Regions from separate parts of the Homo sapiens genome. Here region 2 is linked to region 1. The links come from fine-mapping of genetic effects on gene expression. A gene starts in region 1. The other region holds a variant in brackets. All regions are shown on one strand. Distances are from middle to middle. Region 1 holds the start of NME5 (NME/NM23 family member 5). Region 2 holds the start of LOC124901208 (small nucleolar RNA U13).

Region 1 (5,363 bases):
GTGATCAACTCACCTTGGCCTCCCAAAGTTTTGGGATTACAGGCATGAGCCACCGTGCCTGGCCTTGTTGATATAATCTTATCAATCTTTTCTTCCATGGCTCCTAGACCTTAAGTCATAACAAAAAAAAAAAAGGCTGTCCTACTCCAACAACAAAATAAATCCATTATCTTTTCTTCCTGAACTTACATGGTTTAATTTTTTTAATATGTAGATCTCAGGTTTATTTGGAGTTTATCCTGGTATATAATACTTGATCCAAATTTTTCAGTGGCTACCAGTTTTCCTAACATTTACTAAAAAGTTATTTACCTGAGTCTTTAATCATATTAAATACTTCCTAACACTTTCTTGTGCCATCCCTACTCTCGGACTCCACCTGTCCTTTGAAGCTCAACTGAAATTCCGTATCTTTTCTGAAGATTGATATTTTCTCTTTATTTATTTATTTATTTTTTGAGACAGATCTCCCTCTATTGCCCAGGCTGGAGTACAATGGCGTAGTCTTGGCTTACTGCAACCTCTGCCTCCTGAGTTCAAGCGATTCTCCTGCCTCAGCTTCCCAAGTAGCTGGGACTACAGGTGCACGCCACCACGCCCAGCTAATTTTTGTATTTTTCATAGAGATGGGGTTTCACCACATTGGCCAGGCTGGTCTCAAACTCCTGACCTTATGATCCACCCATCTCGGCCTCCCAAAGTGCTGGGATTACAGGCGTGAGCCACCGTACCCGCCATTTTCTCTTTATTTTTAAAAATACTGACTGAATAAGCAATATGACACTGTATAAATGGGAGAAAATAAAAAATTGGAAGTTCGAATGAGAATACTGTAAAAGAGGCGGGGTGCAGTGGCTCACACCTGTAATCCCAGCACTTTGGGAGGCCGAGGCGGGTGGATCACGAGGTCAGGAGTTCAAGACCACCCTGGCCAACATGGTAAAACCCCGTCTCTACTAAAAATACAAACATTAGCTGGACATGGTGGTGCATGCCTGTAATCCCAGCTACTCAGGAGGCTGAGGCAGGAGAATTGCTTGAACCGGGACCTGGAAGGCAGAGGTTGCAGTGAGCCGAGATCGTACCACTGCACTCCAGTCTGGGCTACAGAGGGAGACTCTGTCTCAAAAAAAAGAAAAAAAAACTATAAAAGAGGAAGATTAAAAATATTCAATTCTATTTGATTTATCCTTAACAATGCTATTTATATTCACTTTCAAACCCCTAGAATGACAATGTTTACTAATTGCAGAACATAAGGCTTAAAACATTAAATGTTATGCCATAACTGAAAAAAGTACCAATAGCCTAAAATTCCATCAATAGAAGATCAAGTAAATAAATTGTAGTTCTAATACACAGGGAAATATTACACAGAAATTAGGAAGAGTGAGATCAATTCAGATGCAATGATCTGGAATCCTATCTGAGGGACTCTGTAAAGGGGTCAAGGGAAAGGGACTGTTCTGTTTTATGGGGGGAAAATGTTTATAAATGCATAGAAAACTCCTGGAAGAACAGAAAGTGTTAAGTGGTTGCCTCTCTCTGGAGCCTGGGACTTGGGGTAAAAGAGGACAGGTGAAGGAAAAGTCCATTTTATTTCTCATTTTACATCCTTTTAAAAACTATCACATATAACTTTTATACTTAGAAGAATAAACTTAAATTTAATGCTGAACACTAAGGGTTTAAATGGGTAGGCACATTTACATAAGCATTTTTTTTTTAAGGGCAGAGAGGAAAAAAGCATGAATCATCATACCCAGAAGTTACCTGAACAATGGTGAATCCGGATCTAAGAATAATATCTTGTATCTCCTCCTCTTTGTCAACAATATCTGGTTTGATAATGGCCAGAGTTTTTTCTACATATATCTGAGGTGGAGGCATTGATATCTCCATTATGGCTTTTCAGGGCACAAATTAAGAGTTTCTTAACAGGTATCAACTGCAATGACATGCATTTCCCCCCACCCCCATCGCAAATTCAATGTAATTATGATTAAGAATAGCAATAGTAGGTACTTGATTTTATTAACTGATGAAGGTAGAAACTGCCATGTTTTTCTATATACAGGGTCTCAATAATAGGATTCCTACTATGTCCAAATCGAGCCCCGGCTTTTCGTATACGATGTCACCAAGGCAGGAAGGACTATGGGCTCACATAACCAGAGGCCAAGGGGCGACCCGAAGGCCTGGAACCAGCAACAGCCCCAGGCAGCAGAGGGCGGTGGGGCGGGTGGTGGGGGCTCGAGGGGGCGGTAGAGCGGGTGGTGGGGGCTCGAGGGGACGGTGGCTGGTGGGCAACCACACACCATTACAGCGGCGGGTGAGCGGCCTCGGCCAGCTGCCTCTGTGAAGCGACCCTGTCCCGCAGGGACCTCTCTGTGCATAGGGTCAGGCTAATTGAAAAGCAGGGCCTCTAGGTCCGCGGGGACTTTCCGGGTTGCACCTGCAAATTCTGAATTTGACCCTCTCTAAGTACTCACCTCAGCGGCCGTCCTCATATGGTACAACTTGTTGCTAGGAGACCTGAAGCCCCAGCGTGGGGACGGTGGCTGCAGAGAGCCAATCCCAGCAAGGAACCTTGCAGCTTCTGGCCAGTTCGTTTTAACCAAAGGGAGCCAGCCAGTCACTTTTATTCTCCTTGTGAATCTTAGAGCACTAGATGTTTTCTGACATTTTACTCATAATTTATCTTATTTCATCCTTCTTCCCGTTTGAAGGATGCTTCAATTATCCCTACTCTATAAATGATAAGAACCCCTCCCCCAACCATTCCTTTCCAGGCGGTATATGTAAATGACCCGTGTCAGATACCTTCGTTTCACCAGATGATGCTGTGCCCTCTATGCCCAGCTTATCTAGTCATTAAAAAGCAATATTCCTATTGTGTAAATACATTTATTTATAGAGTAAAAGGCTTAGAAAAGATCTAATGGAATTGTCTTTAAATCAAGCCGATGGAACAAAGATGTGGGCAACATTTATGGCATAAATCCAAACCTCAGCTTCCCCTTTTTTTCTTTATATTATGTCCACATGCATCTTTGACTCGTTGGTTGTGAGTTAAGGTATTATTCTTGTTGGAAAAGAAAATGAGGACATGGCAAAGAAGTACCAGGATCCTCTCTAGGTCAGAGTTCCGGGAGAGATTCAAACTCTAGAAAAAGTCAGGATAGCAGCTCCAGGTTAGAAAACAGGTTTTCCATCATCCACTGGGTTAGCTGGTTCTCCTTCCAGACTACTTGAGCCTTTTCTTTTGTCTAACCAGATATTCAGTACCTAAAGGGTTAAGGAACACATAGCAAGCTATTATGAACCTTAAACACTAAAGTATTGCAAGTTTATTTTTTTGGCAAATAGACTCAACTATACTTTTTTCTTTAAAGTATGATGCTACCCAGAAAAGAAACCCACAAATGTCTTCTAGCTACTATATCTTATCCCCTAAAGATGGGAAAGTGTGAACGTACATTAATAACAACAGATGAAGCAACCAAAAAATACACAGTGACTCCAGCCTCTTTGGAGTTTAGCCCTTGACTTGAGGCTCTGGAAGCGGGAATTCCCATTACTTGTCTATCCTCAGCTCTCTTGAGAGCTCTTCACTGCTGCCTGCATTCCTAGACTACTTCACTATCAGAGCTGGACTTACTGAGGCTCAGGGTTTTCCAAACCAGCAGGCACATTATCAATCCTTCAGGGCCTTAATCACCTTTAAAAATAAACTCTGAGAACACAGTCACCTCGAAATCACCTTTATTCTCATAGGCGTTCTGAAATCAAGATTCCAGAGGCTACAGGTATCTGCATACAGTACCTGAATCTGCTCCAGGACTTCTTGCCGCATCTCCACAGCCATATGGTATACATGATGATCAGAGTCATTGTACATTACAGCATTTTGGAACATCAGCATCAGGTCTCGCAGGAATTGGGCCATGGTGCGAATCCGACCCTTAGAGAGATTTCTCTTCAGGCTAGTTAAGTCCATGGGTCTGCAGGTGGCCAAGAAAAAACAAAGAAAATCAAACCTTCATGTGGAACATATGATAACCTAACACGTTCTCTTGAAGAACTAACCAGTTCTTAATGAAAACAGTAGCAAAGATAACAACCCTCATCAGATAATAAAATAGCAACAGCAGTTAATATTTGCCTGTTTACAATGGGCCAAACACTGTATTTCTATACTAACTCACTTAATCCTCTCAATAAACCTGTAAGGTAGGTATCATTAATATCTCATTTTTTTTTTTTTTGAGTCGGAGTTTCACTCTTGTTGCCCAGGCCGGAGTGCAATGGAGCAATCTCAGCTCACTGCAACTTCCACCTTCCAGGTTCAAGCAATTCCCCTGTCTCAGCCTCCAGAATAGCTGGGATTACAGGCGTGCGCCATCATGCCCAGCTAATTTTTGTATTTTTAGTAGAGATAGGGTTTCACCATGTTGGTCAGGCTAGTCTCGAACTCCTAGCCTCAGGGGATCCACCTTCCTTGGCCTCCCAAAGTACTGGGATTACAAGTGTGAGCCACCGCCCCCGGCCTTATTATCTCCATTTCACAGATGAAGAAATTGAAATCTAAAGAGGTTAAGTACTCACTGAAAGGCACACAGCCTGAATTCCAATTCAGAGGCAGCCTGACTCCAGAGCCCACAGGTCAAGCCACTATATTCTACTATCAGAGGAGGAGTGCTGGCCCCAGGTATCAAAGTTGTAAAGAGCACCAATCATCAGTTTATCACACAGTAGTTATTTGCTGTTTACAATGTATAGTCATATATTATTTCATCTACTTCTCTTACTGCACAAATAAAAAGCTAAGAATAATTTTTTTCTCCTTTCATGGAGATGAAAAAAGGATCAAGTGAATATTAAGACAATATTAATGAGACACAGAAAGTAGATATATAAGAGAAGGCACAGCAGTGTAGAAAGAAGACTGAACTGCAGGTAAGAATCTGGGGCTTAGTTCTAGCTCTGCTATTAACTGTTGGTTGATCACGAGCAAGTCATGACCAAGCACCTCTGAGCTTTAGTTTCCTCATTCCTAAAGAAGTTTGTCTCTGCTGTTTGAATGATGGTATCATTGTCTCTGCTGTTTGAATGATGGTATCCCCTCCAAAATTCATGTTGAAACTTAATCCCAAGTGCAACAGTATTAAGAGGTGGAGCCTTTGGGAGGTAATTAATTCATGAGTGCTCTGCCTTCATGAATGGGATTAGCATCCTTATAAAAGGGCTCCATATCGAAGAGAGTGCCCTCTTATCCTTCTGTCCCTTCTGCCATGTGAGGATACAGCATTCGTCCCCTCTGCAGAATACAACAACAAGGCATCATCTTAGAAGCAGAAGCA
Region 2 (5,381 bases), 23 kb before region 1:
GCCTCTGCCACCGCGCCCAGCTAATTTTTTTTGTATTTTTAGTAGAGACCGGGTTTCACCGTGTTAGCCAGGATGGTCTCGATCTCCTGACCTCGTGATCCGCCCGCCTTGGCCTTCCAAAGTGCTGGGATTACAGGCTTGAGCCACCGCGCCCGGCTTATTTTTCGTAATCTTAATGTTTCTTTTAATCACAAAAGTAGTTACATAAATGCTGTAGAAAAATTTAAAATACAGCTAAGCAAAAGAAGAAAAATAAAATATTTCTACCATCCAGAGATTATAGATAAAAACACTTGAGTGGGTATCCTTCTACATGTTATTCTATACACATTTATTTATTCATTTTTTAATCTAAATGAGAACACATGGCTGGGCACAATGGCTCATGCCTATAAACCTAACACTTTGGGAGGGCGAAGCAGGAGGATTGCTTGAGCCCAGGAGTTTGAGACCAGCCTGGGCAACATAGCGGGACCCTATCTTATTAAAACAAACAAAAAAAACCAAAACCAAACCAAAACCAAATGGGCGTACACTGTGCATATTGCTTTGTAACATACTTTTTTTCAGCTAACAATCTTTCTGTTTTCACATTTTCTTACATTATACTTTCTTTTCTCTTTTTTTTTTTTTTTTTTTTTGAGACAGAGTCTCGCTCTGTCACCCAGGCTGGAGGGCAGTGGTGCGATCTCGGCTCACTGCAAGCTCCGCCCCCTGGGTTCACGCCATTCTCCTGCCTCAGCCTCCCGAGTAGCTGGGAATACAGGCGCCGCCACTACGCCCGGCTAATTGTTTGTATATTTAGTAGAGACGGGGTTTCACCGTGTTAGCCAGGATGGTCTCGATCTCCTGACCTCGTGATCCACCCGCCTCGGCCTCCCAAAGTGCTGGGATTAGAGGCGTGAGCCACCAAGACCGGCCGTGATTGTGGTTTTTGCCATTGTTTTTTAATGACAAAAACCATAATTGCTTTTGCACCAGCCTAATAGTTATCCAAGTGATTAGTTTAAGATCATCCCCTGGTTCTGGCCATTTTCATTGTACCAAAAAATTACTTATATACTTACACCTTTCTATTTTTTATTTTTTACATCAAACAGGTAATGTGATGATGCTGTAACAAGGTTTGAGGGAAGCATATCTGACACATGAGCATGAAACCAAATCACCATGCTTATGGACTACAAAAGGACCTAAGCCTTTTAAACTAGACTGTCTCAACTGTGCATTAATTATGTATTTAGATATAGGATATGTGCTTGGGAAAATGTATAACTAAACTTTATGTCTTACTTCTCAAACTTAAGAAAAACAAAAACATCTAGCAACATCTTACATGAGTTTTCCATTACCTAGTGTTACATCATTGTTAAAATCATACTCTAAGCCTATATTTTACCTTAATGTTATCTGCTTCATAGAATAGTTATTCCTTTAACACTTATTTTTAAGAAATAAATTTATTTTACTTGTAGTTACTTAAACCCTAGAAATAATTTTTTCAAACAGTAGAAGTACAGCCTTTTATAATAAGATAGTTCATGATTTGTTCTTTCGAGGATTTTTTTTTTAATAAGGTTCTTCTACAATTGGATGGTGACAAAGTTTGGGTTTGTTAGGATTATTTTTCAGCAGCCAATCAGCTAGCCAAATCTATGGGAAAAAAAAAAACAACCTAAGTTAAGAAACAGTTACATATTTCCTTTCAATATATACTATATCAATTGGAAACTTAAACAGTTTTCAAAATCACTTTAAGAAAATGACCATTAAAAATGGAAACATTTGGATTTACATTATGCAAGATTGTCAAGAATAGATCCAAACTGGCAAGAAAGAAGTAAAACTATCTCTTTTCACAGATGGCATAAACCTACATGTGGAAAACCCTAAGGAATTTACAAGGAAGCCACTACAGCTAATAAATTCAGCGAAGATGTAGGTTACAATACACAAAAATCAACTGTATTTCTATACATCAGCAATGACAGTCCAAAAAAAAATTTTAAATCACTTTCATTTACAGTAGCATAAAGACAAATAAAATGCCAAGGGATAAATTTAACCCAAGAAGCGAAAGGCTTATACATTAAGAACTGTAGAACATTGCTGAAAGAAATTAAAGAATACCTAAATAAATGAGAAGACATTATTTTTCATGGATACGGAGATTTGATATTGTTAAGATGTCAATACTTCCCAAAGCAATCTACAGATTCAGTGCAGCTCTTGCCAAATGTCCAACAAGTTTTTTTGCAGAAATGGAAAG[C/G]CAATCCTCAAATTCATATGAAATTGCAAGGGGCTCTGAGGAGCCAAAACAATCATGAAAAAGAACAAAGTTGGAGGACTGATTTGTACTCTCAATTTCAAAACCTTCTACAAAGCTACAGTAGTCAGCACAGTGTGGTAATGACATCCTTATGCCAGACATGCAGACCAATAGAATGGACCTGAGAGTCCAGTGCTCTCTTCGGCAGCACATATACCAAAACTGGAATGATACAGAGAGATTATTAGCATGGCTCCTGTGCAAGGATGATGCACAATTTATTAAGCATTTCATATTTTAAAAAAAGAATGAGAATCCAGGAATAAACCCACGCATCTATGGTCAACAAATTTTTGACAATGGTACCAAGCCCATTGGTACCACTGGACTTGGAGAAAGAACAGTCTCTTCAACAGATGGTACTAGGACAATTGGATTTCCACATGCAAATGAATAAAGTTGGACCCCTATACCACACCATATACAAAAATGAACTCACAATGGACCAATGACCTAAATATAAGAGCTTAAACAATAAACATCTTAAAAGAGGCCAGTGACTCACACCTGTGATCCCAATACTTTTGGAGGCCGAGGTAGGAAGATCACTTGAGACCAGGAGTTCAAGACCAGCCTGGGCAACATAGGGAGACCCCATCTCTACAAAAAATTTTAAAAATTAGCTGGGTGTGGTAGTGTGCTCCTGTGGTCCCAGCTACTTGGCAGCCTGGTGCACAAGAATCACTTGAACTCAGGAGGCAGAGGTTGAAGTGAGCCGAGATGGCGCCACCAGACTCCAGCATGGGGAACAAAGACCCTGTCTCAAAAAAAAAAAAAAAAAAAAAAGGAAAGAAAAAAAATCTTAAAAGAAAACATAAAACACAGGGGTAAATTTTCATGACCTTGGATTTGGATTTCACAATGGATTCTTAGACATGACATCAAAAGCACAAGAAATAAAAGAAAAAATAAATAAATTGGATTTCATCAAATGAAAAATGTTTATACATTAAAGGACATTATCAAGAAAGTGAAAAGACAACCTACAAAATGGAAGACAATATTTGCAAATCATATATCTAATAAGGGTTTAACATCTAGAAATACAAAGAACTTTAACTCAACAAAAAGACAACCCAGTTTAAAAATGGGCAAAGGACTTCAATTTGAATAGACATTTCTTCAAAGAAGGTATACAAATGGCCAAGAAGCTCATGAAAAGATGTTCAACATTAGCCATTAGGGAAATGCAGATCAAAACCACCGTGAGAAACCATTTTGTGTTATCTACTAGCATGGCTACAAAAAAAAAGAAAGATAGGTCGGGCGCGGTGGCTCACACCTGCAATCCCAGCACTTTGGGAGGCCAAGGCAGGTGGATCACCTGAGGTCAGGAGTTCGAGACCAGCCTGGCCAACATGAAGAAACCCTGTCTCTACTAAAAATACAAAAATTACCCGGGCGTGGTGGTGTTCGCCTGTAAATCCCAGCTACTCAGGAGGCTGAGGCAGGAGAATCACTTGAACCTGGGGGGCGGAGGTTGCAGTGAGCCCAGATTGCGCCTCTGCATTCCAGCCTGGGCAACAGAGTGAGACTCCGTCTCAAAAAATAATAATAATAAATAAATAAAACACAGCAAGAAAATAATAAGTAATCAATAATTATACATATCTAACATGTATATGAAATACCTTCTAGAAATGTTTATTTTAAAAAGGTTCTCAATATTTGCAGTATTTCATTTATTTACTTATTTATTTTTTGAGATGGAGTCTCGCTCTGTTGCCCAGGCTGGAGTGCAGTGGCACAATCTCGGCTCACTGCAAGCTCCGCCTCCTGGGTTCACGCCATTCTCCTGCCTCAGCCTCCCAAGTAGCTGGGACTACAGGCACCCACCACCACGCCCGGCTAATTTTTTATATTTTTAGTAGAGATGGGGTTTCACCGTGTTAGCCAGGATGGTCTTGATCTCCTGACCTAGTGATCCACCCACCTCGGCCTCCCAAAGTGCTGGGATAATAGGCGTGAGCCACTGCGCCCAGCTATATTCGCAGTATTTCAAAGACACAATGTCTTAAACGTGAAAACTACAGACAATTTATAGAAAAAAAAATTTTTTTTTTGAGATGGAGTCTTGCTCTGTCACCCAGGCTGGAGTGCAGTGGCACAATCTCGGCTCACTGCAACCTCTGCCTCTGGGTTCAAGTGATTCTCCTGCCTCAGCCTCCTGAGTAGCTGGGATTACAGGCACATGCCACCACGCCCAGCTAATTTTTGTATTTTTAGTACAGACGGGGTTTCACCATGTTAGTCAGGCTGGTCTCAAACTCCTGACCTCGGATCCGCCCGCCTTGGCCTCCCAAAGTGCTGGGATTACAGGCATGAGCCACCACGCCTGGTGACAATATTCTTAAGTGTGAATAAAAATATTTCTTACCAAAGGATCTGCTGGTTTTTGCTTACAAAGCTCTGTGAGTCCTTCAAGCAGAGTTGGCATTATATGTAAATTTAAATAGTCCTTAGCAGCTTGTCCAATTGGAATGGGCTCAACAATCACTGCAAATACAAATGTATTCTCATTGATGCAAACATAATGATTAAATACTATACAATCATTAAAAAGGTTCTTTTTAAAGAACTTTTCTCTATTTTTTTATATGTTTTTTTGAGATGGAGTCTTACTCTGTTGCCTGGGCTGGAGTGCAATGATGCAATCTCAGATCACTGCAACCTCCTCCTGGGTTCATGTGATTCTCCCACCTCAGCCTTCCGAGTAGCTGGGACTACAGGTCCGCATCACCACACCCTGCTAATTTTTGTATTTTTATTTATTTTTATTTTTTGAGACAGAGTCTCGCTTTGTTGCCCAGGCTGGAATGCAGTGGCACAATCTCAGCTCACTGCAACCTCCAACTCCTGAGTTCAAGTGATTCTCCTGCCTCAGCCTCCTAAGTAGACAGGAGTGTGCCACCATGCCTGGCTAATTTTTGTACGTTGAGTAGAGGCAGGGTTTCACCATGTCGGCCAGGCTGGTCTCAAACTCCTGATCTAAGGTAATCCTCCTGTCTCGGCCTCCCAAAGTGCTAGGATTGCGGGCATGAGCCACCATGCT

The links. PIP is the estimated chance that this variant, and not a neighbour inherited with it, causes the effect. A credible set is the group of variants that fine-mapping cannot tell apart.
Region 2: its variant is the best candidate, but not a certain one, in a credible set for the expression of NME5 in lung (TOPMed, PIP 0.88).

The regions. Positions count from the first base shown.
Region 1 is chr5:138,136,879-138,142,241 of GRCh38, forward strand. NME5 (NME/NM23 family member 5) reads right to left here and starts at 2,550. Exons shown (of 6, transcript NM_003551.3): 1 at 2,493-2,550; 2 at 1,774-1,907. The coding sequence starts at 1,902. It overlaps BRD8 (bromodomain containing 8), which reads right to left. Exons shown (of 27, transcript NM_139199.2): 26 at 3,827-4,004; 27 at 2,892-3,288. The coding sequence ends at 3,196.
Region 2 is chr5:138,114,112-138,119,492 of GRCh38, forward strand. It overlaps NME5 (NME/NM23 family member 5), which reads right to left. Exons shown (of 6, transcript NM_003551.3): 5 at 4,707-4,825; 6 at 1,064-1,653. The coding sequence ends at 1,570. LOC124901208 (small nucleolar RNA U13) reads right to left here and starts at 1,193; the gene lies at 1,091-1,193. It also overlaps the pseudogene RNU6-460P. The variant C/G (reference allele first, on the strand shown) is at 2,270.